7 linked regions of the Homo sapiens genome follow. The protein of the gene in region 6 purifies or fractionates together with the protein of the main gene of each other region. This does not show direct contact. Each region holds a gene or a part of one and is shown on either strand. Other genes may lie near its edges. The genes, in order: TSC22D1, RAP1GDS1, FBXW11, BTRC, TTL, TSC22D4 and TSC22D2.

The links.
Region 1: the proteins of TSC22D4 (region 6) and TSC22D1 purify together in Homo sapiens (affinity purification with mass spectrometry; 4 studies listed by BioGRID and IntAct, with this or other methods). This does not show direct contact.
Region 2: the proteins of TSC22D4 (region 6) and RAP1GDS1 purify together in Homo sapiens (affinity purification with mass spectrometry; 4 studies listed by BioGRID and IntAct, with this or other methods). This does not show direct contact.
Region 3: the proteins of TSC22D4 (region 6) and FBXW11 purify together in Homo sapiens (affinity purification with mass spectrometry; 4 studies listed by BioGRID and IntAct, with this or other methods). This does not show direct contact.
Region 4: the proteins of TSC22D4 (region 6) and BTRC purify together in Homo sapiens (affinity purification with mass spectrometry; 4 studies listed by BioGRID and IntAct, with this or other methods). This does not show direct contact.
Region 5: the proteins of TSC22D4 (region 6) and TTL purify together in Homo sapiens (affinity purification with mass spectrometry; 3 studies listed by BioGRID and IntAct, with this or other methods). This does not show direct contact.
Region 7: the proteins of TSC22D4 (region 6) and TSC22D2 purify together in Homo sapiens (affinity purification with mass spectrometry; 4 studies listed by BioGRID and IntAct, with this or other methods). This does not show direct contact.

The regions. Positions count from the first base shown.
Region 1 is NC_000013.11:44,436,831-44,441,409, forward strand, and holds part of TSC22D1 (TSC22 domain family protein 1), read right to left. Parts: intron 463-4,579; exon of another isoform or gene 346-462; intron 29-345; exon of another isoform or gene 1-28. UniProt on the Homo sapiens protein: Transcriptional repressor. Acts on the C-type natriuretic peptide (CNP) promoter. Acts to promote CASP3-mediated apoptosis.
Region 2 is NC_000004.12:98,438,696-98,442,261, forward strand, and holds part of RAP1GDS1 (rap1 GTPase-GDP dissociation stimulator 1), read left to right. Parts: intron 1-3,294; coding exon 3,295-3,422; 3' UTR 3,423-3,566. UniProt on the Homo sapiens protein: Acts as a GEF (guanine nucleotide exchange factor) for the Rho family of small GTP-binding proteins (G proteins) that stimulates the dissociation of GDP to enable subsequent binding of GTP.
Region 3 is NC_000005.10:171,869,820-171,874,398, reverse strand, and holds part of FBXW11 (F-box/WD repeat-containing protein 11), read left to right. Parts: intron 1-1,408; coding exon 1,409-1,527; intron 1,528-3,540; coding exon 3,541-3,651; intron 3,652-4,579.
Region 4 is NC_000010.11:101,528,166-101,532,744, forward strand, and holds part of BTRC (F-box/WD repeat-containing protein 1A), read left to right. Parts: intron 1-3,071; coding exon 3,072-3,168; intron 3,169-4,129; coding exon 4,130-4,267; intron 4,268-4,579. UniProt on the Homo sapiens protein: Substrate recognition component of a SCF (SKP1-CUL1-F-box protein) E3 ubiquitin-protein ligase complex which mediates the ubiquitination and subsequent proteasomal degradation of target proteins. Recognizes and binds to phosphorylated target proteins.
Region 5 is NC_000002.12:112,488,167-112,492,745, forward strand, and holds part of TTL (tubulin--tyrosine ligase), read left to right. Parts: intron 1-4,579. UniProt on the Homo sapiens protein: Catalyzes the post-translational addition of a tyrosine to the C-terminal end of detyrosinated alpha-tubulin.
Region 6 is NC_000007.14:100,471,985-100,476,563, forward strand, and holds part of TSC22D4 (TSC22 domain family protein 4), read right to left. Parts: intron 2,457-4,579; coding exon 2,290-2,456; intron 1-2,289. Other genes in the region: TSC22D4-C7ORF61 (uncharacterized protein LOC122198330), read right to left, coding at 2,290-2,456.
Region 7 is NC_000003.12:150,462,965-150,467,356, forward strand, and holds the end of TSC22D2 (TSC22 domain family protein 2), read left to right. Parts: 3' UTR 1-3,458; downstream 3,459-4,392. UniProt on the Homo sapiens protein: Reduces the level of nuclear PKM isoform M2 which results in repression of cyclin CCND1 transcription and reduced cell growth.

The sequences.
Region 1 (4,579 bases), on a different chromosome or scaffold from region 6:
CGCAGCCGGGCTCCACTCAGCTCTAGACCAGGACTCCCAGTCTTAGTGCAAAATATATGCAGGAAAGAGCTGCGCCGATTGGCCGGCACGCCACTGGGACCGCCCCCTACTCCCTTCCAGGTCCTCCCGCTTCCCTGCTTCCCCGCCTCCCCCCACCCCCACCTCCGCCCCCATTCTCCAGATCCCGCTCGTGGGGTGGGCTGGCCTGGCGCGGGCCGTGCTCAGAGGGAGTGGGGTGCTGGGTTCGGAGGTTTCCACGGCGGCCTCAAAACACTGGGCCATTGCTTCGGCAGAAAATGTGAAGGGTCCCTGAAAAATACTATGGGGGCCCCCACACGTGCTTACGTTTAAGGGAGTCAGACCCCGGTCCCCGGAGCTGTGTCCCGCGGCTGCTTAACGGCGAAAGCTTCCTATTTGTAACCCGAACCGTCTGAGCTACTGGGCATGCCCAGTCCCACCACTGTAAGACTTCGAGTGTCTTGATTTCAATTATCTAGTTCTTACCGGCAGCGGTACTGGGAGGATTTTATAGACGGTTTTATTTTTAAAGATAATAATCACCCTGCAATCATGTATTTTTTTAATTTTAGAGGAAAAAAAATCACATTTGCTCTTTGAGAGATACTACCTTTTGTTTTATAGAAACAAAACAAAAAACATTATATATTCTTTGCTAGGCATGAGGGAAAGACTCCAGATAAAATCCAGGATCTTCCCAAAAAGCCCGTAGAGCCACAAACCTTAAAATCACATCTCCCTATTAGCATCTTCTCCCTAGTAACTAAATATGCCTTCTTCTATTTAGACCCAAAAAAGTCAATCCACAGGTTGAATTCCACATAAATCTATTTTTAGTTAAGTCCCTAAGGCACGTTTTTGCAAGCTGAGTGACAATTCCTCTAAGACTCAATCCCTCAATCCTATGAGCCTTCTTACATCAGAGGGATTGAAATATTATAAAGTATGTATTCAAAGCATACAAATCCTTGAAGTTAGTCTCTGCCCATTTGCAGTGTCCAGAACCAGAAAAGGGAGGATATAATGGTGGTTAAAAATAGTTAAGCAGCCAATAGATGCTGTAGGCTCACCTCTGTTTCACCCTCTTGGCCACACTGACCAAATAATTCCCTTCTCCAAACCAAAATCGAGAGATGTGGGTATAAAATAGCTTAACCCTTTCAAAATTTCCTATATTAATTTAAAATACTTGCAGGGATGCATCAATTAAGGCTACAATTTAATATACTAGAAATCTAAGCCCTGAAGTTTGCTAAATTATAATACAACATAAACAGTTTCCAAGTCAATACATGCGAGAAAGAAAACTTAACCTCTACAATACTGCCCTCTAATGGCATAATATAAAAACCAAAAAATCTACAAAGTACTTGGGGAGACCTCTCTAATCTGTAGATAAAATTGTGTCATCACAAATAATTCCAACATAAAATCTGACCGTAGAACATATATATGTAATACACGCACATGCACAAACACACACAGTCTTCTCTCCAAAATAAGCATCTTTCCTCAAGCAGCATCCTTTTCTAAAATTGCCATCAGATCCATTTAGACAGTTTTTAAGTTGACTCAATGCTGGTAGTGGGGGTAGGTAGATTTGGTTTTCAGAAACTGTCCAAAGTTATTAGGAACCAGACCAGATCGGTAAGCACAGTAAATGATGAAGACCACAATTCTCTTTTGGGTTAAAAACCAAAGTGTGACCAACTATAAAGTGATGAGATTCCCTTTTTACTGAAAGGTTCATATTCTCCAAATTTTAAGGCTTGGCTTTTGAATAACAATAATTGTTAACATATTTATAATTTATAAAAATTACATATATTAACTCATATGATGCTTTAAAAAAAAAGATACCCATTTCCAACAAAAGGAGACTAAGTAGAAGCTTAGAAATCGTAATTATTTGGGAAGCTGGCATGTGGTCCCTATGTCTATGAATGCTAACCAGAATATTATTTACTACATGATAGTCTCTATATTTTGAAAGTTAAAGTTATACCTAAAACTATTTGTATGCTAAATTCCATTTACATGTTTTAACTGAATGCCAACTTCATGAAAAAAGGGTATTAAAGCACCATTTAAGCTATAAAAAGAGCTTTAAAAAACAAAACTCTAAGGTCATATAAAAAAATTTTTAAATTCCAAGCTGCAGTTTTAAAAAATTACTAAATTAACTGAATTTATTCATGCCGTTCTTCAACATAAACAGAAAGCTGTTTTTATTTCAATCATTTTAACTGATCATCCATTGTATCAAGCAAGAGAAGCAAATATAAGCAACCATAGTCTATTTAACCCATTTTCCTATTGAAGGACATTACAGTTATTGTTAATACTTGGATATTTTAAATAAAATTGCAAGGAACATCCTTCTACATACATCCTTGAACATGTATGTGTGTGTGCACACTTCTGGAGAATTTGTTGAGCCAAAGGATAGGCAACTAAAAAAATGATTAGAAATCTAATTTTCTCATATATTTCACATAAATATGCTAGATTCCTTTAAAACTAGACTTTTGTATGAAAACTGAGAAGACATAATTTGAAAAAGAAGGCAAAGGAAATGGAAAGCTCCATGGAGGGAAAACCCTTGGATCAGAAATGTCCGTGGCACAAATGGCTAGAATTACATTCAAAGGCTCTTCTAATTGCAAGACAAACGATCCATATGTCTGGTGCCTCATCAGAGCTCACTGAGACTTGCTGACAGGGCAGAGAAAAATACTACAAGGCTTCCAGGAGAGATCCTTAAAGCCATGGACCATATAAGTCTATTTCAGGCACTGAGCAAAGATCAGGAGGTATCACCTCAGTGGGAACTCATACACATTAAACAGCCTGGACAATTGAGATTGAGGTATTTTCTAGTGTTGTCTGCCTAAAAGCCTTTTTACACAGATTCCAATTCAACTGCTACTGCATATTGGTAGCAAGCATGACAGGATAGGAAAAGAGGAACAGGCCTGAGTGTTTCTGTTTCCTGTAACATGTGCTTTTCTTCCAAACTTAATCTGACTTGGCCAACACCGGTACAGTTGGAGATTCAGCACTGAAATAGAGTAACCTCTTTCTCCCCCTATCCAAACTCCTTGCAAATCTAAAACAACTGCCAGGAAAGAAGCGAAGGCACATTACCCTGTACCTGACCAAATCACTGCTGTCTAAGGACTCCCACGTCACCTCCATTTTTCTAGTTTACTCTCACTAGGCATGGGAATATACTTACCAGGTTTAACAAATGAAACTACAGGACTATCAGTTAAATGTGAATGGCAGAAAAACAACAAATAGTGTTTTAGTGTTGGGTCCCACACACTGTCAAAACAAGAAGAAATGCCAAAGAAATGGCTGTTAAATTCAACCACAATTTACATTTCCTTATCTCCACAGAAAGGCTGGTTGGAAAAAGCTTCCAAAAGAGTAGAACAGTGGCCGGGCGCGAGCGCGATGGCTCATGCCTGTAATCCCAGCACTTTGAGAGGGTGAGATGGGCGGATCACTTGAGGTCAGGAGTTCAAGACCAGCCTTGCCAACATGGTAAAACCCCGTCTCCACTTTAAAAAAAAACAAAAACAAATAAATTAGCTGGGCGTGGTGGCACATGTCTATAATCCCAGCTACTGGGGAGGCTGACGAAGAATTGCTTGAACCCAGGAGGCAGAGGTTGCAGTGAGCTGAGATCGCATCATTGCACTCCAGCCTAGGCAACAGGGCAAGGCTCTGTCTCAAAAAAAAAAAAAAAAAAAAAAAGAATCGGAAAAGAAAAAGGATAAATCTAGGAGGTCCAACATCAAAATAGGATGCATTTCTATTTTGGAGAGAGAACAGAAGGAAGAGAATTATCAAATAATTTAAGAATTGTTCCAGAACTGAAGGACACAAGTCTCCAGTTAAATGAGATGACCAAATGCCCACCACAAGAAATGAAAAAGCCCTCCACCAAAGCACACCACCCTGAAACCTTAATCACTAGGCATAGAGAGAAAATACTAAAAGCTTCCAAATGGAAGAAACAAGTTACAAACACAGGGACTAGGAACAGAACCACTTTGCTGGCAGTCAGAAAAAGATGAAGAAAATGTCTTTAAAATTCTGAGAGAAAAGAGTTTTTTTATCCAGAATTCTTTACTTGGCCAAATCATCATTTGAGTGTAAAGGTAGAATTAAAACATTTTTAGATATTTCAGACACCAAAATGGAGGAGCAAATCAAGAAAAAAGGCAGGCATGGGAAATAGGAACCAGGAACTCAGATACTGGAGGAAAGGAAGGGAATCAGCAGGCTGGAGTGCAGGGAGATCTCAGGGGGACTGCTGCTGGACAAGCCCAAGCTGCAGCTGGTCTGTACCTGGTCTGCAATGGTAAGGGAAGATGGAGAACTCCAGGAGGGAGAGCTTCCGTGCTAATGAACACACAGATTATCTAACACATCTAAGCATTTGCAGGGCACAGGTGAGCTACTGATAGGTGTATGATAGATCTAATGGAACAATTAGATAAGCTCAAAGGCAGTTTTACTGAAAACAGAGCAAGGAAGAAAACACGGAATG
Region 2 (3,566 bases), on a different chromosome or scaffold from region 6:
GATTCTCATGCCTCAGCCTCCCGAGTAGCTGGGATTACAGATGCCTGCCACATCACACCTGGCTAATTTTTGTATTTTTAGTACAGGCGGGGTTTCACTATGTTGCCCAGGCTGATACTGAACTCCTGACCACCCGTCAGGGTGATCCACCTGCCTTGGCCTCCCAAAGTGCTGGGATTACAGGTGTGAGCCACCACGCCCAGCCTCTCACGTATATCATTCTTAAATATTTCTTCTACATATATTTAGAATCACGTTAGACAGTGTTACAACTTTTCTTTCAACCACCAAACATATTTCAGAAAACTCTTTGAAAGAGAAGGGAAGTCTATCGTATTTACGCACATTTTTAGATTTCTTATTTTTGTTATAATCATTCCCTTTCTGTTTAGAGAACTTCCTTTAGCCATACTGCTAGCAACAGATTTTTAGCCAAAAAAAATTTTTTTCATTCATAATGAAAGGGAAATGACATTGTCAAATGACAGAAAATGGGTATAGGATTCTGGGTTCACAGTTCTTTTCTTTCTTTACTTGAAAACTATTGTGCCACTTTTTTCTAGCCTCCCTGGTTTCTGATGAGAAATCCATTGTGTTCTTATGTGTTTTATTCCCCTGTAGGTAAGGTTTCATTTTTGTCTCTCAAGACTTTCTTTGCGTTTAGTATTCAGAAGTTTAACTATGATGTGTCTTGGCATGGATTTCTTTGGGTTTATCCTGTTTGAGTTTGCTCAGCTTCTTGAATTGATAGGTTTATGTCTTTTGCTAAATTTGAGAAGTTTTGACTGTTACTTCTTCAGGTACTTTTCAGCCCCATTCTATCCACTCTTTCCAGACCTTTGTTGACACTAATGTGAGATCTTTAATTATAGTCTTGTAGGTCCCTGAGGTTTTGTTCTTTTTTACCCACAGATTATTTTCTTTCTGTTGTACAGACTGAGTAATTTCTATTGTTTTATCTTGGAAGTTCTCTGATTATTTCCCTTGTCCCCTCTATTCTGATGTTGAACCTGTTTTTATTTCAGTTATATATTTTAGTTAAAAATTTCCATTTGCTTCTTCTTTATATCTTTTATTTCCTTGCAGAGACTTTGAGTCTCTTCCATTTGTTTAAGCATTTTTAGAATTGTGGTAAAACATACAAAACATAAAATTTACTGTTTTAACCATTTTTAAGTATACAGTTTAATGGCATTAAGGACATTCACATTGCTGTGCAATCATCACCAGCATCCATCTCCAGAACCACCTTCATTTTCCCAAACTGAAACTCTGTACTCATTAACCAATAACTCCCCATTTACCCCTCCCCACAGCCTCTGGCAATCACCATTTATTTTGTGTCTCCATCATCTGACAACTCTAGTCACCACATATATGTGGAATAAGAAACTCCTGTCCTTTTTTGTCTAGCTTATTTTACTTAGGTCTTTAAGGCTTATCTGCATTGTAGGCGTGTCAGAATTTCATTTCCTTTTAAAGCTGAATAATTTTCCATCATATGTATATATCACATTTTGTTTATCCATTCATCAATCCATGGACATTTGGGCCATTTCCACCTTTTGGCTTTTGTGAATAATGCTGCTGTGAACATTGGTATGCAAATATCTCTGAGCCTCTGCTTTTAATTATTTTTGATATATACTCAGAAGTGGAATTACTAGATCATATGGTCATTCAATGTTTAATTTTTTTATTAAATACTGTTTTTACTAATTAAATACTGTCATACTCTTTTTCACAGTGGCTGGACCATTGTACATTTCTTCCAGCAGTACACATGGATTATCATTTCTCAACATCCTCACCAATATTTGCTGTGTTTTAGTAATGGCCAAACTAATGAGTGTGAGGTGGCATCTTACTGTGGTTTTTATTTGCGTTTCCCTAATGATTACTGATGGGAATCTTTTTATGTGTTTGTGGGCCATTTGTATATCTTCTTTGGAGAAATGTCTATTCAAGTCTTTGCCCATTTTTAGAATTGAAGGGTGTTGTTGTTGTTGTTGTTGAATTGTAAGAGTTTTGTTTTTTTTGAGACGGAGTTTCGCACTTGTTGCCCAGGCTGCAGTGCAATGGTGCAATCTCGGCTCACCGTAACTTCCACCTCCCAGGTTCAAGCGATTCTCCTGCCTCAGCCTCCTGAGTAGCTGGGATTATAGGCATGCACCACCTGTAGAGATGGGGTTTCTCCATGTTGGTCAGGCTGGTCTCAAACTCCCGACCTCAGGTGATCCACCCACCTTGGCCTCCCAAAGTGCTGGGATAACAGGCGTGAGCCACCACGCCTGGCCCAAGTTGTAGGATTTTGTACCAGTACCCCACTATCTTGATTATTGTAGCTTTGTAGTAAGTTTTGATATCAGTTAGTATGAGAACTCCAGCTTTGTTCATTTTCAAGATTGTTTTGGAGATTTAGGGTCCCTTGAGATTCCATATGAATTTTAGGATGGATTTTTCTATTACTACTAAAAACACTGGTTCATTGGTTTATGTCAGTCATATCAAAATAAACACATCAGTTTCAGTAGTACTGATTACATTAAGCTTATTAGACTTCACTCATCCCATATAACAGTTCTCAGAGTCCTAACAGGAATCCTATATTTTCTTGTAATTGAAGTTAAATAGAGAAAGCAAGTCAGAAAGAAGAGGACAAAAAATCTAAAAGGGAGTCCAGTGTCACAGAAATTTGTTGAAGGATATGAAGTATAAACTTTTCTTTTGCCACAAAATTAATTTGAAACATATCCTAAGCTTTTTGGTAAGTCATTGGACTTCATATTTGAACTGGTGATAGGGTTGTATGTAACCAAACCTTGAGATCATACAGTGAGCTGTGTTTAATTATAACTCATTATTGTAATTAATCTTACATTGTAGAACTTGACGTCTCGTTTTTCTTTTTAAAAATTGGGCAAGTAGCTGTGCAGTGGCTCATGACTGTCATCCCAGCTACTTGGGAGACTGAGCAGGATGAATCCCTTGAGGCTAGGAGTTTGAGGCTGCAGTAAGCTGTGACCATGCCACTGTACTCAAACCTGGGCAGCAGAGCAAGTCCCCATCTTTAAAATTTTTTCCTTTAATTTAAAAAAAAGTAAAGTTTTTATGATTTTTTTAAATTATAATACATTTCTAAGAAAGACATTGCTAGGCTACTGCTATGTCTTTTTCCAGAATTGTTTCTAGTTTTATAAGCTTAGTCTTGTCAAAATAAACATTTTGGTATATGTTTTGGATAGACTTAGAACAACCTAACAGAATCATATCTGTTATTTTTTTGTCTTCCAGAATGTCTACACAAGGAAGTACAGGATTTGGCTTTTCTAGATGTCGTATCCAAACTTCGCAGTCATGAGAACAAAAGTGTTGCCCAGCAGGCCTCTCTCACAGAGCAGAGACTTACTGTGGAAAGCTGAGAACTGCCCGATACACGGCATCATCCCATCTCTAATTTCCCCTCTGTCCTCCATCCAGCGGCTTCTTCCGCTTCATTCTCTACCATACCACTTGTGCATGCATGTGATGTTCTAATACCAATTGAAGAACCGCTGTAGGTACCT
Region 3 (4,579 bases), on a different chromosome or scaffold from region 6:
AGCATGGAGGATTTCTCCATATCCTTGCCAACACTTCCTATTATTTGTCTCTTTTATTATATCTGCCCTAGTGATTGTGCAGTGGTACTCTGTGGTTTTGCTTTGCATTCCCTTGTTACTGATGATGCTAAACAACTTGTTGTATGCTTATTGGCCATTTGTGTACCTTCTCTGGAGAAATGTCTATTTAAATCTTTTGCCCACTTTAAAAATTGGTAATTTGCCTTTTTATTATTGAGTTATAAGTTCTTTATATATTCTGGGCACAAGTCCCTTATCAGATACATGATTTGCAAATATTTTCTCCCTTTCTGTGAGTTGTCTTTTCACTTTTTTGATGGTGTCCTTTGATGCACAAATGATTTTAATTTTGATGATGTTCAATTTATCAAGACTTGTATAGTTTCAGTGCTTATGTGTAGGTCCTTGATCCATTTTGAGTTAAATTTTTGTTTAAGGTATGAGGTAGGGGTCCAGTGCCATTCTTTTACTTGTGGAGATCTATTTATCTATCCCATTCAGCTACAAATGCAGCTGGTAAGATAATTCAGGGCACTCTGGTTGCTGTGTGTCTCCTTATTTGTCTAATAATATGTTTAGCTGTCTATGAACATCTAAGTCAGATACCACAAAAGAGGGGATTATTTATTCTGCATACATACAATTAGAAGTAATGTGTCAAAACAAATGGAGCTGTTCCAGAAAATATGCTGGAAAAGAGGATGATATGAAAGGTGAGACTTTTTGTTTGTTTTTTGAGACAAAGTCTTGCTTTGTCACCCAGGCTGGAGTGCAGTGGCACAGACACAGCTCACTGCAGCCTCAACCTGCTGGGCTCAAATGATCCTTTCACCTCAGCTCCCTGAGTAGCTGGGACCACAGGTGCATGCTGCCATGCCCAGCTAATTTTATTTTTTGTAGAGATGGGGTTTCACTATTTTGCCCAGGCTGGTCTCGAACTCTTTAGCTCAAGCAATTCTCCTGTCTCAGCCTCCCAAAGTGCTAGGATTAGGTGTGAGCTACCGTACCCAGCTGGAAGCTTTTTTATTACATTAGCTCCATGGGGTTTGAAATGTCAGCTGGTGTAAAAACATAAAATCTGGCCCAAACTCTTTCCTCCAGGTAAATGAGCGTTTGAACCATTCAGGAGATGTTCTCTTTGTAAAGATCTCAAAGACTGGAGACTTCACTTCCCTCCGTGTTTCATTCCAGTGTTATTACTCAGCAGCCAAGAAAATTTTATGCTGTCTAGTCTGCCCCCCAGCCTCCCAACTTTGAGTTAGAGGACACCGTATTTTATAATCACATATTTGGGTCATTATCAGAAGCTCTGTCTTTTTAAGAAAGGTATATTGTGAGAGGACTTTCCTGTGTTCATTCTTTAAAATACTGTTAATTTGTTATACAGGTCTGGAGCACGAGCACCTGTGAATTTGTTCGTACTCTCAATGGGCACAAGCGGGGCATTGCCTGTCTCCAGTACAGGGATCGCCTGGTTGTTAGTGGATCATCAGATAATACCATTAGGTGGGTAGAAGTTGGTGTGCTGACAGAGCAGGCTGATTTTTGCCACATTGTTGACTCATCTCCTAGTTCTAATGCTCAAAACAACTCAGGGTAAATGGGATGTTTCAGATAAGAAAGCTTTAGGTAACTTTTAGAAATGTATTTGGGCTCTGTATACTCAAGTGGGAAAACCGTGTGTGCCCTGGGTGTTCTTCCAAGATTCCCCCAGTACACAAAGTTTTTTAACCTCAGCTCCACCTGGGATCACTTAATACCAGAGCACTTCAGAACAGGCTAGGGTGCTGCAGTGCAGCCCAGCTCGCTCCAATTTCCCTCACCTGTGAGCTCCCACCTCCCTACCTAACACATGGGAGTGTACTTTATTTTCCTCTCCCAAGACTGCATCTGTTCCTGCCAGGTCATTTACCTCTCTTTTTCCTTCCCAGCACTCGGCCTCCCTGCTTTCTAATAAATCTGACTAACCTTAGACATTTTGTATCTTACTAAGAACATCCCTTCAATATCTACTTCATTATCCCATGCCATTTCCCCACTGTCTCAACACACTCTAGTGGCATTACATAAGTGACTAAACTTAACTTTGGTTTATAATCAAATTGACTAATGTTTGGTCAAAATAAAGATAGGATTCAAGATTATTAAAAAAAGTTTTTTGTTTTTTAAAGGCAGGCAAGCAAACACATGCTAGTAGCTTTACATAAGTGACTAAACTTTGGCGTTTATAATTGCCTAATGTTTGGTCAAAATAAAGATTGGGTTTAAGATTATTAAAACTTTTTTTTAAGGCAAGCAAATAACAAAAAAGCTATTTAAGTTTGCTTTATCACTTTAGGCTTCAAGATACCATAAATTTAGTTTAGAGCTTAAATCTTGATTCTCTTATATTCATCATGCTTTGTGGTATTGCTTAATGTTTCATCAATAAACAGTTCTTAACTTCCTCATTGGAATTGTCAAGGTTTTACAAGATAGTAATGTGTATTACTCTCCAGCTTATAGAAGGGAACTACTTTGGAGTCATAGTGGCAGTACTGAATGGCTTTGATCACAGATTAGAGATGCTATCATCACGGGTACTAAGAAGATTTGCTAAGGGCAGCTGTAATAAAATACATTCTTTGGATGTATCATAGGAATTACTGGTAGAGAGGCTAAGAAAAAGTTATAGAATTAATTTGCTCACTTTATTTTGTACATGCTAACTAGCTATGATTTTTTTCTACAAATACTGTAGAAAATCAGTCATAATAGGAAAAAAGATCTCTAACTCCAGAATTGTTACATAAATCATATGCAGAGAAAAAGACTTGGTGTTGTCAATGGGTTTATATTTCCACCAGAACACTGCGTGTACCTAGTAAGTCTCCCACTCTGACTTTGTAAACCGTCAATCCCAGTATTCAGCATATAGTATCAAGGAAGGGGTATCCCCAAGCCTCATCAAGAGACAGCCACCTCCCCTGCTGGTCCGCCAGTTCTAACCTCAGTGGTCCTTATGGACTCCACTGTGCTAGAAGTGCCTGGGGCGGAAGCTTAACCCCCTGGCTGTACGTGATATCTCCTTTCCCACCTTGTCTCATCTGTGCTCTTTCTCCTTTACTGCCTACAATCCCTGTCTCCCCAGAAGAGTCTTTCCTACACCATTTGTCTACATGGTTTTTATCAACTCAGACATCAAGAGAATGCCTAAGGATTAAATAGAATTGAAGTTTCTTGTTTGTTGATTTTATTTAAATAGTAATACAGACGCATGATTAAAAACAGTTTCAAATCATATAAAAGGAAATAGAATAAAAAGTAAGGCTTCTTCCTAGGTTAGTGCTTGGAAACACACAGATGGTATAAATGTACACATACAGCTTTATATGTGTGGTGTGTACTGGAAGTGAGATAGAAATAAAGAGCTCCAAGATAGTGAAAAATTGTATCTGTATGGAACAGATATAAAAAACTTACGGATAGTGTGAATCGTGTGTGGGAATTTGTTTCACAGAGGTCTGTTTTTCATTCAAGGCTCTGGGATATTGAATGTGGTGCCTGTTTAAGAGTCCTAGAGGGACATGAAGAATTGGTCCGATGCATCCGGTTTGATAACAAGAGGATTGTCAGTGGGGCCTATGATGGGTATGTCTTTCAGATTTTCAGATGTACTGCTATAACTGTATCAAGAAGAAAGAGAAATGTTATATATTAAGCAACTCTGTATGTACCAGGTCCTATGGTAGGTTTCTGTGTAATGGTGGATGGCAGGTATTATTATACCTGTTGTTTAGGTGAGGACACTCAGGCCCAGAAAGAAGAACTAAATCTTACCCCAAATCACACAGAGGGAGAGTCACTGTGGTTCCTAAACTTAGCTTTGAATCATCGCTGTCAACTCCAGCAATAGCTTAGGTTTCAATAGTTGATGTGGGGGTATTGACTTCTTTGCTTTATCCCTAAATTAAGCCAGGCTCTTTGTGTGTGTGTGTGTGTGTGTGTGTTCGTTCAACAATAAGTTTCTTCTTTTCCCTTTTTTTCCCTTTTTGGTAAATTGAACAAACCCTCTTTAAAACACCTCACTACATTTTAAATGAGCAAATGGCAACTGTAAATCTTTCCAGATGACCTTATATATACTTCCCAAATGGGTTAGTTGGTCTGTTTGTACTCCTATTACTAACTTCCAGCATTTGCTTAATTTGGAGAAAGGTATCCTTGGAATTTCACACAGAGCCCTAGCTTCTGTCAGCAGCACCTACTCAGCCCTAGAGAGTCCCCTGATGAATGAATTTGGTGACATAGGTTATCAAGTCCGGAACTGAATTTAGATAACCTGAAGTTGTTTTCTTATCTCCCTTAAAATAATATTTCTTTAAAATTTCAGCAATTCTGAGAATGTGTAGGTTCTTAATTTTTCCAAAATCAAGTGTAATTGGTTCAGATGATTTGTAAAAACATAAGCATGTTCCCCATTAGCTTTTATAAATAGGCAGTTCAGATGCACTACTTTTTTTCAAGGAAATGTTTGACAGCATATAAATTGTTCACTTTTCCACTAATCACATCTCAT
Region 4 (4,579 bases), on a different chromosome or scaffold from region 6:
TAAAATACATTGTGTTCCCATTTGGACTGTAAATGACAGTAAACCTTCATCATAAATTGGGAGTTTACTGAGTCCTTTTTTGAAGGCAGAAAGATCAAGAAGTAAGTGGGCAGTTCTTGGCAGATGGATGTGAAAATGCCAAAGGTAAAAGGCTCCACAGTTTTGCTTGGGATTGGCACTAAATGGCAAGATCTTTTATGTTAGTTACAAAGAAAAAACAATCATTGAGAAGATGGCTTTTGAGCCTTTCTAAAGGGTAGGTGAAGTAATCCAGGATCCAGCACTAATTACCACTTTTTTCCCCTATCTCTTTATCCACAGAAACCCATTCCCGCTCTTTTGAGTATCCTTCAGAGTTCTGACTATATCCCCTTGTCTTTGGGCATGTTTATCCTCTTAATCCCATGATAAACCCATGAAATTCCAAATACTTATACATCCCGTGTCAACTTCCTCCATTATTCCCTCGACTTTCTTGTTGCTGCTTCTGTTTTTACATGTTGACTTTATTCCTGTGTCAGTTTTCTTCCCTTTTTTAAAAAAAAATTTACTCCATCAGTTTCTCATTTTCTTCTTTCAAGTTGTCTTACCAAGCCTAATACGTCAATAAAGTCTTTCTGTGTTATACTTTTCCCCATATGCTAGCTTTGAAAGGTTCTTCCATTTCTACTAACCAAAAATAGTAAGTAAATACAGTTTTCTAATAAAGCTTTTATCTCTAAGTTTTAACTTGGTATTTGATGTTGTATTTTATATCTAGATGGATTTGACAGTCTTCCCCTGGGACATGAACTCTGTAGTTTTCTCTCTTGAATAATACTGAATATGCTGTCTGCTCAGTAATGGTAACTCTTAAAAGTATAATAAAAGACCACTTGGGAAAAGTCAATTTTCTTAATCAGCAGATCACATTTTATGATAACATTCTGAATTTAATATTTAACGTTTATCATGTACTCACATTCTTGTAGGTACTAGGCATTTCACATAGAAGTAGTCCCTGTTTTCAAAGATCTTCCATCATAAAAGGTTTTGACTTAAAACATAAAGACAGAAGCCAGTTTTCAGTACCTAGCCACCTCTTTCTGTAACACTTTGATTTGAAGAAATTCAGATACTTTACCAAGACATGGTAAATGCAGTGAGGTGGAAAACAAGATCAGAAGCTTATGTGAGTTCTCTTTCCTTAGAATGTAGATAGTATCATTGCATAGGAAGAAAGTCTTGGAGTGCTAGAGATTAAAAGAAGACAGGAATCTCAGGAATGGTGGGCATTGAGAAACAATAAAGTAGTTAAGAATGTGGGTGGGCTCAGGAGTCAGACTTAAAATCTTCACATTCAAAATCTATTATTTGCCTGCAAAGTGTTTGTAGAATAATATTGTACAGAGAAATGTACCATTAATCTGGAATTCTTTCATAACGCATCTTGTTTCCCCTTTTGTTTATGCTGGTGTATCATGTTTCATTAATCCCCCTTTTTATAAGTATTATTTTCACTTCTCTATTTCAGATTTTCTTTTCTGTATTAACACAGAAGTTAGAGCCATCTACCTTCCTGATAGGAAATTTTCTCAACTAATTTTCAGGGTATATAACAGGGAGAGGGCAGGGGAGAAACACTCCTGGAGACACCAAACAATTAATTATATTGTAATGGAGCTATAGAGGGAGGAGTGGATGACTGGCCCAGAGAAAACATGATTTCTCTGGTGCCAGGATTACACTCAGAGGCATTTCTGCCTCTCTCCACTTTGCAAGGCACGGTGCCAGTGAGAACAGCAGTTAGTACACCCATAGTGGGGTTTACTAGCTTCCACACCGTGTTTGGTGGGTTCTTAACTTCCGGATGAGGAATTAAATTTTTTACCCAGCAGGAAGTGATTGCCATTTACTGATTTTTTTTTTGTAGCAAAGATCTAGCTTGGGATACGAGTATTCCAGAGATGTGCTGTCATAAGGAAGGAGATACTAACAAATGTTGCTCACTGGAATCAGGGAAGGCAGTTAAGTACATGTGTATGTACACAGCCAGGAACACACCTGTGAAAGTCAGTTTCATGCCTTAGACTTGATAGCAGTGCTCTTAGGCATTTCTTTTTTTTCTTCTTCCCTAGCTGCTGCTGGACACACCTGTGATCCTTTTGTTTTCTGATGAAATGAACTGAATTGCTCCTTTCAAAGCATAGTTGCACTGATTAGCAGCAGCCTGGGTGACTGAGCAGCCACCACACCTTACCCTGTACAAATAAAGACCTAGCAAAAGTGATCTCCATGCCAGAGGCATTGCTGCTGTCTACAATGCTGGGGACCACTGACACAGTAAAAGGGAAAAAAAAAAAAACCTATAGGGCATGTGCTAGTTCAAAGGTAATAGTTACCATTACTAACAAAATTTCCAAAAGATGAGGCCAGTGAATCTAAGCAGTAGTCTTAATAGAGCAATAGATGAATTCTGATTGTACATATTCCATTTGTTTACTGATATTATAATATTCCTAAAGGCTTGGTACTCCGATGTTCTACACTGGAAATAATCATGTTTTACCCAAAAGCAAATCAGTGTTGGTCAGATTCTTTAGAGCCCAGAAGGTTACTCTTTGACATGGGACTCCTGAAATCAGGCTTACCTTTGCTCCTCCGCAGACAGCTATGGAGAGTATATGGAATGGTAACCGTGAAAACACTTTCAAAATATATGAAGTTCCTTATAAATATATAATGTCGGCCGGGTGTGATGGCTCACGCCTGTAATCCCAGCACTTTGGGAGGCCAAGCAGGCGGGTCATTTGAGGCCAGGAGTTCAAGACCAGCCTGACCAACATGGTGAAACCCCATCTCTACTAAAATACAAAAATTAGCCAGCATGGTGGCAGATGACTGTAATCACAGCTACTCAGGAGGCTGAGGCAGGAGAATCACTTGAACCCAGGAAGCGGAGGTTGCAGTGAGCCAACATCACACTGCTGCACTCCAGCCTGGGCAACAGAGCGAGACTCTGTCTCAAAATATATATGTATTTAAATATATAATGTCATGATTTTCACTGGGAAATATTTGTTATTTTTTAGGGGACAGTATTTATTCAAAAACAAACCTCCTGACGGGAATGCTCCTCCCAACTCTTTTTATAGAGCACTTTATCCTAAAATTATACAAGACATTGAGGTAAGAATCTATGTATTTTGGGGTATTGCCCAAGGGCACAGAATTATCAGCATTCTTCAGTCACAGTATGGTTACAGCAAGCCCATTAAGGTTTATTGACATGAGTTGGGAATCAATCTCTTAGCTGGCCATGGTGGCTCACACCTGTAATCCCAGCATTTTTGGAGGCTGAGGTCAGGAGTTTGAGACCAGCCTGGCTAACATGGTGAGACCCCTGTCTCTACTAAAAATACAAAAATTAGCCAGGCATGGTGGCACACACCTGTAATTCCAGCTACTCAGGAGGCTGAGATAGGAGAATCACTTGAACCTGGGAGGCACATGTTGCAGTGAGCCAAGATCGCACCACTGCACTCCCTCCTGAACGACAGAGCGAGACTCCATCAAAAAAAAAGAAAAGGAAAAGAAAATCAATCTCTTTACAGGCGAGTAGGGTAGGTAAAATAAATTGCTAGGCAAAATTTTAAAGCTTTAAAAAATGGTTTACTAATAAGTAGATGAGAGAGTTAAAGAGATTGATCCCTTCATACATAGCAGTGTGACTGGTAAACTTGTACTCATAAGCTCATATTTAAATATCTTCTGAATTGAACCTCCTTAGAAGTTCATCAGTAGCAATCAGTAGCAATGGCCATCACATATGTAAGAGCACTGAGTGTATAACCTCACGTAGTTCGTAGCTTTTCTTCTCTTGATGAGTAGTCTCTTTCCACCAGATTTATTATTTAATTGAACAAATTATAGGCAGGGAAGTTCTAGGAAACAACCTTTAATTACCTTGCAAAAGGAAGAATATTTTATAAATATAGATAGTAGCCTTTTAAAGACATTTTTTAGTTTTCCCTAAGTTGTGTATATCCCATAGAGTAAAGCATTGAGCCATTGATTGTCATTAAAGCCTAAAAAGAGTTTGATTCTAGGTGTTTCCTAACACTGCCTCTTTCCCATTCCTTCTTCTCAGACAATAGAATCTAATTGGAGATGTGGAAGACATAGTTTACAGAGAATTCACTGCCGAAGTGAAACAAGCAAAGGAGTTTACTGTTTACAGTATGATGATCAGAAAATAGTAAGCGGCCTTCGAGACAACACAATCAAGGTGAGGTCTATTCAGTTGTAGAAAGGTAGCAGAGGGAGCAAGAGTGACCACATTCATAGCGCAGTCTAAAGCATAAACTCTAAGCATTATTTCTAGAAAGTAAGTGAAGATTTTAGATTGTTTCCAGTCCCAAAGCCAAAATCATTTCCTTAAAGGACAGACATCAGCTTCCCCACTATACAAACGGGTAGTCCTAGGGTTAAATTCTCTTCTTGAAATGCACTGAATGGGCTGTTACTCTTTTGGCCATCACATAATTATAGACTACCCTGTTCCTTAATGAAAAGGATAAAAGTTTGCATTAGTACTGAA
Region 5 (4,579 bases), on a different chromosome or scaffold from region 6:
AACCCTGAGGGGCTTTTCTTCTCCTGGTACAGATCAGAGGCTATCTTTTCCTCTCCTGAGCATTGCTGTTTTATAGATGTAAATAAATCTCCATTTCTGATTACTTCCCAAATGGGCCCATGAGGAAATGGGACAAAAGCAAAGGACTTCCTGCAGAGCCTGGTCTTGGTTCTGTGCAGGAAATGAGGGCTTCCAAACCAAGGTCATCTTACAGACCAGCACTGTCCAACAGAAATAGGATGCTACCCACACATGTAATTATAAACCGCCTAGTAGCCACATTAAAATAAGTGCAGAGAAACAGCTGCAAGCCGGGCGTGGTGGCTCACGCCTGTAATCTCAGCACTTTGGGAGTCTGAGGCGGACAGATCACTTAGGGTCAGGAGTTCGAGACCAATCTGGCCAGCATGGTAAAACCCCATGTCTACTAAAAATACAAAAATTAGCTGGGTATGGTGGTGGGTACCTGTAATCCCAGCTGCTCGGGAGGCTGAGGCAGGAGAATCGCTTGAACCTGAGAGGTGGAGGTTGCAGTGAGCCGAGATCATGCCACTGCACTCCAGCTTGGGAGACAGAGTGAGACTCCTTCTTAAAAAAAAAGAAAAGAAAAGTAACAGCTGCAATTAAATTAATAATTTATTGCCGGGCGTGGTGGCTCACGCCTGTAATCCCAGCATTTTGGGAGGCCGAGGCGGGCGGATCACGATGTCAAGAGATTGAGACCATCCTGGCCAACATGGTGAAACCCCGTCTCTATTAAAAATATAAAAATTAGCTGGGCATGGTGGCAGGCGCCTGTAGTCCCAGCTACTTGGGAGGCTGAGGCAGGAGAATTGCTTGGGCCCAGGAGGTGGAGATTGCAGTGAGCTGAGATCATGCCATTGCACTCCAGCCTGGGTGACAGAGTGAGACGCCGTCTCAAAAAAGAAATAAATTAATTTAAAAAACCCAAATAATTTATTATATTTAACTAAATAAATCCAAAATGTTATTTTGACATGTAATTAATATAAAAAGCTATTATATTTTACGTTCTTTTATTCACTCTTCAAAATCTAATGTGAATTTTACATATGTAGCACATCTTAATTCAAACAGTAAATTTTCATTGGAAAGCTTTGATCTGAATTTAGATTACATAAAAAATGTATGGTTGAAGAAGTAGATTTATGTACTCAAGTTGTACATAAAAGTTTTTCAACAACTTTGAAAGCCAGAAGATCTATTTCCTTTAATATTGCACACACATTTTCAAAACTAGTTCATCTTTTCTAGAAGAATTGATTTGACTATGAAGCAAAAGCTTATTTTCAAAATAATGTCCAAGTTAAGTAAATTCACCAACTCTTGTGTTAGTTTGATACTGTAAATATCAAATTCAAAGATGTATTGAATATATTGAAAAGTAACTCTAAATTTACCAATGTCAACAAAGTGTTCCTCAGATTTCTTTTAGTTTTTGCAGCCAATTTTCATAATGCTATTACAATTAACATTTTTTGCATACTGAATCATGTTGTAAAAATATGTGAAATCATTATTATCAACTTATGAAGTTGGAACATAAATTCTCACACCTGTCTGGGTGGATCATAAATAAGATCTTCTCTTCCCTTCCTTGGAGCTTTAAATTTATCTTGTTTATATGCAGTATGAAGATAGATGAGAAAATGCAAATGGCAGTCATTTTTTATTTTGATTATTGAAATAATGAATTACTGAGTGAAAATGATGATTTGACAAACATTCCTTTTATTTTCAAGAAAATCTGAATTGGAGTTGAAAAGTAAATCTTTATTTAAAAAGACCCTTCCCCTTCTCCATCAGTGAATACTGGCAGAGAACACAGTATCATTAAATTCATTGTCTTCTGTTTCCATGAACTGGAGAATCATTGAGTATATACAGAACCATTTTAACAACTGTATCCGTGACACTTAGAGTCTGCTTCAGAAAACCTAGCACAAGGCCGGATGTGGTGACTCACACCTGTAATCCCAACACTTTCAGAGGCCAAGGCAGGTGCATCATTTGAGGTCAGGAGTTCGAGACCAGCCTGGCCAACATGGTGAAACCCTGCCTCTTCCAAATACAAAAAAAAATTAGCTGGGCATGGTGGTGTGCGCCTGTAATCCCAGCTACTTGGGAGGCTGAGGCACAAGAATCGCTTGAGCCGGGGAGGCAGAGTTTGCAGTGAGCCGAGATTGTGCCGCTGCACTCCAGCCTGGGCAACAGAACCAAACCCTGTCTCGGATAAACAAACAAACAAACAAAAAGCAGACCTAACACAAATGTTTTCAACATGTAACACATAATGCAATGAAGCAAATGTTTCCAATATGTATCATACAATAAAATGAAGTAGTAAAGGAAACATTAGTCTACTAAAATCTTAGTAAATCTTTTTTTTTTTTTTTTTTTTTTGAGATGGAGTTTTACTCTGTCACCCAGGCTGGAGTGCAGTGGCACCATCTCAGCTCACTACAACCTCTGCCTCCCAGTTCAAGCGATTCTCCTGCCTCAGCCTCCCAAGTAGCTGGGATTACAGGCACCCACCACCATGTCTGGCTAGTTTTTTGTATTTTTAGTAGAGACGGGATTTCACCATGTTGACCAGGCTGGTCTTGAACTCCTGACCTCAGGTGATCCACCTGCCTCGGCCTCCCAAACTGCTGGCATTACAGGAGTGAGCCACTGTGCCCAGCCATAAATCCATATTTTAATACAACCTAACTGAAGTCCTATCTGTCATGATAGAAAGAAATTTTTTGCATGTAGGTAAAATTCTGTGACAGATGTAAGAGATTTTAAAATATCTATACTATGAGTTTGCGTGTGTGTGTGTGTTGGAGTCTCACTCTGTCACCCAGGTTGGAGTACAGTGGCACGATCTCAGCTCACTGCAACCTCCGCCTCCCGGGTTCAAGCAATTCTCCTGCCTCAGCATCCCGAGTAGCTGGGACTACAGGCAACTGCCACCACACCCGGCTAATTTTTTGTATTTTTAGTAGAGATAGGGTTTCACCGCGTTAGCCAGGATGGTCTTGATCTACTGACCTTGTGATCCGCCTGCCTCAGCCTCCCAAAGTGCTGAGATTATAGGCGTGAGCCACCACTCCCGGCTGAGTTTGATATTTTTTAAGCTGCAATTTGACAGCATTTTATCATACATTTGGAAATCCTTTGAGGCAAAACACCCAAAGTATTAATTGGACAGCATCTTTTATGTCACACAGTTCACCTAAAGCTAAAGAAAAATACTTAATATTTTTCAAATTTTGAGTCAATCTTTGATATTGTTAGAAAGGTTTTGTAGTCTGTGGGCAATTGTGACTCAGCTGAAGATTGTTCATTTTTTGTAAATTATATTTTTAAGTCTTTTCCTTAAAATAGTTTTTTAAAACTACATTTGCATCTAAAATGGTTTTCTTTTTGTGTAAGAATCCAAGCCATTTTATAGTTGCCCAAAATTATAAACCCAGACTCTGTAAAACATTTGCTTAAAAAATGTGTTGGATATTGTGATTTTAGCCACTAGTTTCATTAATTTTTTTGAGCATTGAGAGGAAAATACTTATCAAGTTTATTATGTATTTGCTAAAAATGTCTCCTTTACACAACCGTTTTTTCATTTTACTTTTACCATAGCCTATTGCAGTCACCATTTCTTGTGAATCTGTGGCATACCTCCTTTCAGTTCTTTTTTTTTAAATCTCTTACTGTCCTTGTCATAGTTCTAGCTTCTGTGTCCCTACTCAATTCCACGTCAGTAGTATGCCTTCGTTTTAAATTTAAATTTTTGTCCAAATATTTTTTTAACTAGGAAGAAATTCTATTTCACCTTAGTCCCAATTGTGGTATTTGTAGCTAGCACTGTAATTCATGCTCTCTGCATAGTAAACATATCATAATGTTTCATCACTGCACAGAAATCACTTGATCTGAATCAATCTATTGTCCCTGAATAGAATAGCGATGTGTTTGTGTGTGATACTAGAAATGACACATGGCCCTGACGTGCATGCTGCGATACAACAAGAAAGTGAAGTATTATCTCACCATATCAATAAAGTTGTGCTTAATGGAAAAATATTTTATAATGCATCCGTTTTTAAATTAAAGGCAAATTAAATTTTAGGCCTGACCCAGTGGCTCATGCCTGTAATCCAGCACTTTGGGAGGCTGAGGTGGGTGGTTTACCTGAGGTCAGGAGTTTGAGACCAGCTTGGCCAACATGGTGAAACCCTGTCTCTATTAACAATACAAAAATTAGCTGGGTGTGGGCCGGGCGCGGTGGCTCACGCCTGTAATCCCAGCACTTTGGGAGGCCGAGGCGGGTGGATCACGAGGTCAGGAGATCGAGACTATCCTGGCTAACACGGTGAAACCCCGTCTCTACTAAAAGTACAAAAAAATTAGCTGGGCGTGGTGGTGGGCACCTGTAGTCCCAGCTACTGGGAGGCTGAGGCAGGAGAATGGCGTGAACCCAGGAGGCAGAGCTTGCAGTGAGCCGAGGTCGCGCTACTGCACTTCAGCCTGGGCGACAGAGCGAGACTCCATCTCCAAAAAAAAAAATTTG
Region 6 (4,579 bases):
TCTTCACACCTTAATTACCTCCTGCCTGCCGGGAGGGGACAAGGATTTCCAGCCCTGGGGCACGTGAGCATTCTAGATTCACCTGCACCCTCTGTTCGCCCATCCCCAGATTCAGGGACTGGTCAGGCGTCCCCAACTCCCTCCCTGTGATCCAGGCACTGAACATCTCAGCCCACCTTCCCTCTTAAGAGAGAGGTCCCAGGCCACTGGCATCCTGTCCTGCCAGCCCTGTGCACACCAGACAGGAGAGGTGGGGCCTACATGTCCCATTCCTAGGGGGCAGGGGGTGGCCCAACCCAAACCCGCTGGCCTGGCAGGGTGGGGCTTGAGGGGCTGGGCTGGGACAGATCCCCAAGAGCCTTGGAGCACAGCAGGGTGAAGTGGAGGCTGGGAACCGGACCGGTCAGATTGGGGTGTGCAGGGAGGGGGTGGGATGGAGGGAGGCAGGGAGGGAGGGTACAGGGGAAAGACGGAGGCCTCAGGAGGTTGAATCCTCTAAGACAGAGACAGCAGGAGGCTGGGCTGTGAACTCAACAGGGGTGGGGGAGGGACGGGGAGTCCTCTTGCCGGGGAACCTCCCAAGTGGGAGAGGGAGAGGGCGGGAAACGCTGAGAATAGCAGTGATGGCGGCAGGTGACTCTCCCAGCCCTGGCCGACCTCACACCTCGCACATTCCTGAGAGTGGGAATGGGGCGTGCAGAAGCCACCCAGTCCTGCCCAGCCCCGCCCAGCCCCACCCAGCACTGGCACTCTTGCCCTCCGTCCCACCAGCTCCTGGCCACCTCCTTTGCCAGGTCCCTATCCTCCCTGAGGCCGCAGGACCCTATCAGTGGTGGGCTTGAGTCCCTGATCCCAGCGAGTGGCCCCTGATCTGGGGAGGACAGGAAGGAGCGACTCCCATCTGGAATTGGTCCCTCAGGCACCCACTCACCCACTCTCGAAGCCCCACCCCCAATTTCCTTCCAAGCAGGAAGTCCCTCCCCTTGAAAACCTCCCACGGGAAGTCCCACTTCTCCCTCCAAAAGAAAAGCGGTGACTCCCCAGCCCTTCTGCCCGGTTCCTATCAGTCCCCGGGGAGAAGCAGGCAGCCTGGCTATCTCTGACTCACGATTCTGGGCCTCCCTTTTCAGCTTGCTGGCTTTCTTAGGAATGGTGACACCTGGCCCTGAAAACCCACCCAACAGAGCACTGTCCCCTAAAGGGAGAACCCCAGAAAGTCGCTCTCTGCAGTGCTGCCCCTGCCCCTTTGCCGTTCCTAGCTCTGATTCTGTTCCTAGCTGGCCCATCTTAGGGACTTGCTTTCTCGGTTCTAGAAATCTTAGGATCCTAAAGTAGACCCTGTGGGCTATCAGGATGTCACGCTCCACAGGTGCTGTTAGGGAGTCCCAGTCCTTTGTTAGGAGAGAAAGAGGGAGATGGAACTGGGAGGAAACTGATTTCCATTCTTTTTCAGTTTTTTTTGTTGTTTTTTTTTTGAGGCGGAGTCTCGCTCTGTCACCCACGCTGGAGTGCAGTGGTGCGATCTCGGCTCACTGCACCCTCTGCCTCCTGGGTTCAAGTGATTCTCCTGCCTCAGCCTCCTGAGTAGCTGGGATTACAGGCACGTACCACCACGCCTGGCTAATTTTTGTATTTTTAGTACAGACAGGGTTTCACCGTGTTGGCAAGGCTGGCCTCGAACTCCTGACCTCAGGTGATCTGCCCGCTTCAGCCTCCTAAAGTGCTGGGATTACAGGCATGAGCCACCATGCCCAGCCTACTTCCTTTATGTATATATATATATATTTTTTTTTTCTTTCTTTCTTTTTCTTTTTAGAGATGAGGTCTCGCTACATTGCCAGGGCTTGGTCTTGAACTCCTGGCCTCAAGCAATTTTCCTGCCTGGGCCTCCCAAAGCACTATGAGTACAGGCGGGAGCCACTGTGCCCCGGCCTGATTTGCTATTCTGTCTAGAGCATGCATTTGCCAGTGGGTTCCTGGGTTGGCCAGATGATCTCTAAATCTGCAAGAGCTCTGGAATCTGACAACAATGACTCCCTTCAGACTCTAAAAAAGTCTGTGACCTGACAGTTCTGAGCCAGGGAGTCCCACCCAGCCCTCTCCACAGAGAGGGAGTGGGTCCGAAATCAACTGTGTGCAGTGGCTATGCCCAGGCCAGGTTTCTCTAAGAGGTCCTCTCCAAGTTCAACCTGGGGGAAGGATGCCTACCAGGCACTTTCTTACAGCTACCCCGGGTGCTGGGCGGGGAACCTGAACCCCACGCCCCACCACCCCACGAAGCCCACCTACCTATCATCGTCGCTGTCTAGGTGACCACTGATGGCCAACATGGAGTGGGCCAGGCTGAACTTCTGAGCTGCTACTGCTCCGAAGGGGTCTGGAGATTTGTGAACCAGGCTGGCATCGTGGGTGAAGTAGAGGGCTGGGGAGCTGGGGCGAGAGTCAAGTGGGGGCACCTGGAGGCGGAGAGGTAGGAACCATCACATGAAAAGAGAAAAGAAAGGAACCAGCTGCCTTAAAACTTGCCTATTAGCCTTCCTCCCTCTCCACCTCCCCACTCTCTTTCGAGGACCCAGGAGTCCTGTCCCCGCAGTCCTTCCCTCCTCCAGCTCTGGAGAAGGCATTAGGCAGGTACTAGAAGCAAGAAGTGGGTCAACCTAAGGAATGGGAGGAGTGGTGTATAGGACATTAGAGAGAGTCTCCCAAGTGGGAGGAGGGGGTGACTGACGGAGGAACCCAGAATAGACTCCAATGCCCCAGCTCCCACTGGGCCGGGACCCCTAATCAGAGGCTACGCAGCGTGTCTGCCTTCTTTTATGTTTTATTTTTATTTTTTTGAGACAGTCTCACTCTGTCACCCAGGCTGGAGTGAAGTGGCACAATCATGGCTCACTGCAGCCTTGAATTCCTGAGCTTAAGCGATCCTCCAGCCTCAGCCACCCGAGTAGCTGGGACTACAGGCATGCACCATCATAACTGGCTAATTTTTTATTTTTGGTTAACACAGGGTCTCAAGATGTTGTCCCGGCTGGTCTCAAACTCCTGGGCTCAAGTGATCCTCCTGCCTCAGCCTCCCAAAGTGCTGGAAGAATGAGCCACCACTCCCAGCCTGTGCCTTTACTGGAGTCTCGCTCTGTCGCCCATGCTGGAGTGCAGTGACGTGATCTTGGCTCACTGTAACCTATGCCTTCCAGGTTAAACTGATTCTCCTGCCTCAGCCTCCTGAGTAGCCGGGACTACCGGCACCTGCCATCACACCTGGCTAATTTTTTTATTTTTAGTAGAGACGACAGGGTTTCACCATGTTGGCCAGGCTGGTCTTGAACTCCTGACCTCAAGTGATCTGCCCGCCTCGGCCTCCCAAAATGCTGGGATTACAGGCGTGAACCACTGCACCCAGGCTGCCTTCTTAAAATGACTCCAATGTCACCTCTTAGAGAGGCATTTCCCCATCATTCACTGGTTTACTGAACTATTTCATTTTTTTATAGCACCTAACATTATCTGAAATTAAAGTATTTATTGTGTCTCTCCCCTGCTAGAAGGTCAGTTTGCTCAGTAGCTATTTGTAGAATGAATGGATCCTCAGAAACTGCTCCTCCATCCCCTCACCCACCCCCCACTCTCGCTTCCCCTCTCAAACTTCTCGGACTCAGGTGGAATTCTGCTCCTGCGCTCTGCCCTAGGGTTGGGGGGGGAGCTGGTTGTGGAGCTGGGGGGAGGCGGAGCCTGGGCGTGGACCTGCATAGCCCAACAGGCTCTGGGGGCAGCAGCAAAAAGGGCGGGGGCGACAGGAACATGACAAGACGCCTCTGTGAGGCCCCGGGAGGCCCCAGCTTCTCAGAAAAGCCAAGAACAGAGAGTCCAGGGTGGTTAAGGGACAGAGCAGAGGAAGGGGGCCCAGGTGGTGTCCCCTGGCCCTTCTCCACCACTCCCCTCTGTTAAGAGGGAGAAGAGGCATGAGGGGACGTGGAAGGGAGACAGACTTTTGGGCAAGGAAATAGCAAAACAGATGCGTGCAAACAGAAGACCGTCAGGAGGTGGGGGAAGGCTGGGGAGTAGGGGGCACTGAGAGAGAGAGGCAGGGTCTGTGGCCCCAAGAGAAGCTCAGGCCAGGCTTAAGGACAGAGAGCAGGGAAGCTGGAGGCCAAGGGGGTTTGCTTTGGAAGAGTCTGGGGACAGGACAGGAAGAGAAACAGCATCTTCTCCCCTGGGGTGGGTGCTGAATGCAAGAGTTCAAGAAGAGTTGGGGGAGGGGGGGTAGGAGGGGGCATCACGAGAGATGTGAGCTTGAGGCCAGGAGGGGTTTGGGGGGAGCCAGTCCTGACCGGTCCTGACAGGACCCAGACATCCAGTCCCAGGTTATTTTTATACTGTGGTTTGTGCCCAAGGCCAGGAAGGGGAAAGAGTTCGCATCCTCACACTCCCTGCCTTTCCCCAGACCTCCGAGGTGTTATATTCTCCCACAGGACAGAAGTATCCAACCTTCTATCTCTGGCTGCTCACCCCCACCATGGGGACCCAGGCATCCTGCCCCCACAGCCTGGCTTGTTCCTCTTTTGGAGACAGGAAGGAGAAA
Region 7 (4,392 bases), on a different chromosome or scaffold from region 6:
AGATTAAAGAGTCCCAACTCATACTTGAAAGTTTGACTCGGTCTTTTCCTTCCAACAGTTATAAATCTGTGAAATGAAAGTCTTTGTTTCCTTAAAGGGATTTCAAGAATTTAACAAAAGGGTTGGGGAATGGAACCTTTGCTGTCACTATGCCTGTCTCTCAATTCTACCCTAAAGGTAAACTAAATGGAATCCTTTTATGGTGACTAGGATTAGGATGTTGATTCCAAAGCCTTTCCCTAAAATCTATTCCTTGCTCCCTGGAAAGGATAATACAGGTTCTGGCCCCCACTGTAGGTACTGACAGCCCAAGGCAGAATAGGTTTTGCTAGGCTTTAGCCTTTTATTCTTTGACATAGGTCAGTCCTGCAGGCTTCTTTTTTCTAAGTCTCCTGCCTATCCAAAACCAGACCTTTTCTCCCACCTCCTTCTGCTTCAAGCCTCTTAATAATCCATATTTCTATTTTCTAGCAATAGTAATAGTTTATTATTTAGTGATGTATACTTGCACCCCATTTACTCCTTTTCAATATTTCAGGATACATCTTTGTCCTGTATTTCTGTACCAGTTCACAGAATTTCTACAGCAAGATCCCTTTAAATGTATGGCTTTCCTTCATAGGTTGCAAGGATTACTTTATACAAGTGCTACTGTAACTATATCTTTTGTGGAGTACAATTGGTATGACATGCTGTGTTCATAGATGAAAATGCTAAGTGAGGCACTCTGAAGCAAGTTAAAGTTCACAGACATTCTTGCTTGCCCACCACCCCCCCGAACCCCGCCATGGAATCATCAAATAAGAAAAATAAGACAGATTTTCAGATTGGTGATGGCAAAGTAAGACGCTGGTATTTTGCACTGGCGCAGTCCATTTAGTTGTTGAATTTGTTCAGCATACCTGGATGGTGAGTGAGTTAGCTTTATTTTTCATTCTCAGCAGGGAAACTGATAGACTAGGCAGTTTGGGGAATTTTCCCATTGTCTACTGTCATGGGTCCATAGTATTTAAGTTTACAGACTACAACATTGTCCACAGAAGCCATATTTATCCCCTTGGAGGGAAGGGAAAGGTGTGCTAACTTAGATCATAAAAACAACTGAATTTTAAAACAAGGCAAATGCCACAGTTCAACTTCTCCATAAAAAAGTTAAGTTCATCTCTCCATTCTTTTGCATGCCTACAATATTTCCATATAACAACTGTAAAATACTCTTGCCTGCTGCAATCCAAATGTTATCCGGATCACAGTTCTTGCTGTCATTTCACAGGCATGCAATGTATCTATAGATAGGTCATATCATACCTGAGGAAGATCAGAGACAGCAAGGGAACATTTTCCCCACACTTGAGATGGAAATAATAACAGGTCAGTGGCTAATAAAAAGAAACATGTATGACTTTGTAAAACCCTAAAAGTGATGTTTTCAAGAAATTTAGGTTTCTTTTTTTTATTTTATAAAAAAAATGTTGACATGCAATTTAATTCTATTTCAATTTAGGTGCTGCAACCTGTACTGGATGTTTGGGGATAGAAAGATGAATGGGACATGATTTGTGTGCTCCAATGAGCTCAGTCCAGTGTAAGTGTAAAAGTTAAAGTGCCATATTGTTTATTCAGAGTATATGTTATAGTTTGTGAACCTTATATCATTTGTTAAATGAAAGGTTTTTATAAATCAACAGTAATATTGCCATCCCATGTAAAAATCCTTTGATATTGCCAGGAAACAACTTTAAATCACCAGAAAGCTTTAACATCAAATAATACTTTTAGAAGGAGGGGAAAAGCCTTCCACCTCGACATCGAGCCTATGAAGTATTCCCTAAAAAAGAGGAACTAATCTGAGAAAAGTTTACACATTTTTAATACTCTAAGTTGTAGATAATGAAATTGATTTAAATCAAAGTTAACTAGAATAGGATTCATGTGTCATGAATTATATTGTCTATTGTCTCATAAGCAACAAGTGACACTTATTATCTTGGCTGACAAAATCAGCTACCATTTAATGAACCAAGTTAAGAATAACTCAGGTGACTGATACCAAAAATAAATCTCTAATACAGCTGAGAATCCAGAAACACAAATAATATGTTGAGTAAGTAATAAAAGTGACATTTCAAATTAGTAAGGAAAAAATGGATTATTCAACAAATAGTATGGGATAGCATAACAATTTAGAAGAAATATAAAGTTAGATCTTTCACAAAAATTAATTCTAGCTAGACTAGCAGTTAGTCTTCTACTTTTTGGTTACTCCCTTTTAGAAATTGGAAGCTATGAAGCTATATACCCTGTCCATTTGAAAATGCACATAAGCAAAGAACTTTACAAATAGGTTATAAAGAGAAGCTCAATCTCAGCAAAATAAGGGAAGTGCACATTAAAACACAAGAAACCATCTCAGATCCAACTAATATTTAGCGTGCATACAAATCAAAAGCTGGAAAGGGTGTGGAAAAACAGGAATACATTGCTAGTGAGCATACAAATTGGCACAGCCTCTTTTAAAGACAATTGTGTATCACCCATTAAATTTTAAAAGTCACATACCCTGTGACCTAACAATTCCAACTTTTAATGTCCTAAAGAAACATACATGTGTTCACAAGATAGCCTGTACAATGATGTCAATTGCACCTTTGCTTGTACAGTAGACCCCCTTATCTGCATTTTCACTTTTTGAGGTTTCAGTCATCCAAGGTCAACCACAATACAAAAATATTAAATGGAAAATTCCAGAAACGAACATAAGTTTTAAACTTCAAACCTTTCTGCATAGTATAATAAAAATCTCTCACTATCCCTCTCCATCCTGCCTGGGACAGGAATCATCCCTTTGTCCAGTGTATCCACAATGTATACACTCATTATATACCCATTTTATAATGCCCATTAGTCATTTCTATTATCAGATCATAAAAAAACATAGTACATAGAGGGTTTGGTATTATTCATGGTTTCAGGCATTCAGTGAGGGTCTTGGAAAATATCCTCCATGATGGGGGAGCTACTGTAATACTATGAAATTGGAAAAACCAAAATACTCATCAAGAGGATGGACTATGGTACACATGATGAAGTATTAAGTATCAATGAAAAAGAGAGAGTCCTACATGTCCGGCATGGAAGGATCTCCAGGAGACAATGTTAAAAGTTTGGGGGAAAAATTGAAAGACAATACCTGTAATACATATGATACTAGTGATGTTAAATCACATCACACACACACACACACACACACACACACACACACAAATACTGTATAGTGTACTTCTACAAGTACATATTTGTGTATTATATAGAGAGAAGGTCTGGAAGGATACTAACCAAACTGTCAACAGTAGTTTGGTAGCGTGCATTAGCTTTAACTGTAATGTTTGATGTTTTTGAATATGCATTTATGTATTGTTTGTGTAATGACAAATTAATAAATTAGAAATAAAATAAAATAATGTGTTTTCTTCTTGTCTGCTGCTAATGTTTCCCCCTGGTACCTGGGGTCTCATCATGTTCAGCATCTTTCCTCCCCAGGAATATCTTCCCCCCCTACCTGTTTCTTCTACTTCGCCTTCTCCCATGGCTTTTTCACATCAGTATTTATACAGGCTCAATAAATAACTGGCCAATAAATGAGTAGACCACCTCCCCTAACTGAAAATATGTTCCCTTCACTTGCTTTTTCAGCTCCTTCCTCTTCCTTTCCACTTTTTCCTCTTCCACGTACAGCTTATCACAAACGCAGTCTGGCTTTAGCTCCCATTGTGCCACTGAAACTGTTCTTGTCAAGGTCATTGATGATCACTTTGTTGCTAATTCTATCCCATATCTTATTGAACTGCTTTACTCCTAATTTCTCTTTATGATCATTTCATTACTCTAGTAGTTTTCTATCTCTTCATTTTCTAACTTCACTTTTTTTTTATAAAGAGTTTCCCTTATAAAAAGTATATAGTTGAATTTTCTTTTCTGAACCAGGCAACACTTCATTCCATGAAATAGAATAAGTGTTCCCAATTTTTTTCTTTTATAGAGATGAAGTCTTGCTATGTTGCCCAGGCTGGCTTTGAACTCCTAGGCTCAAACAATCCTCCCACCTCAGTCTCCCAAGTAGCTGGGACTACAGGTATCCACCACTGTTTCTGGCTTGAATTTTTAATTTCTTAACCCAATCTGTCTTTTGATAGAAAAATTTAATCCATGTCTATTTCATCAGTGGCATATTTGGATGTATTTCTGCCATCTTATTTCATGTTTTCTCCTTAAAATGCTTTCTAGACACCCCACCCCCGCACCGGCCACTGCCTTGCCACACACACACCCTTTTTCCCTTTTCTTGGCTTTCATTCAGTTGTTTCTTATTCATTTTTGATCCCTCTTTTGGTT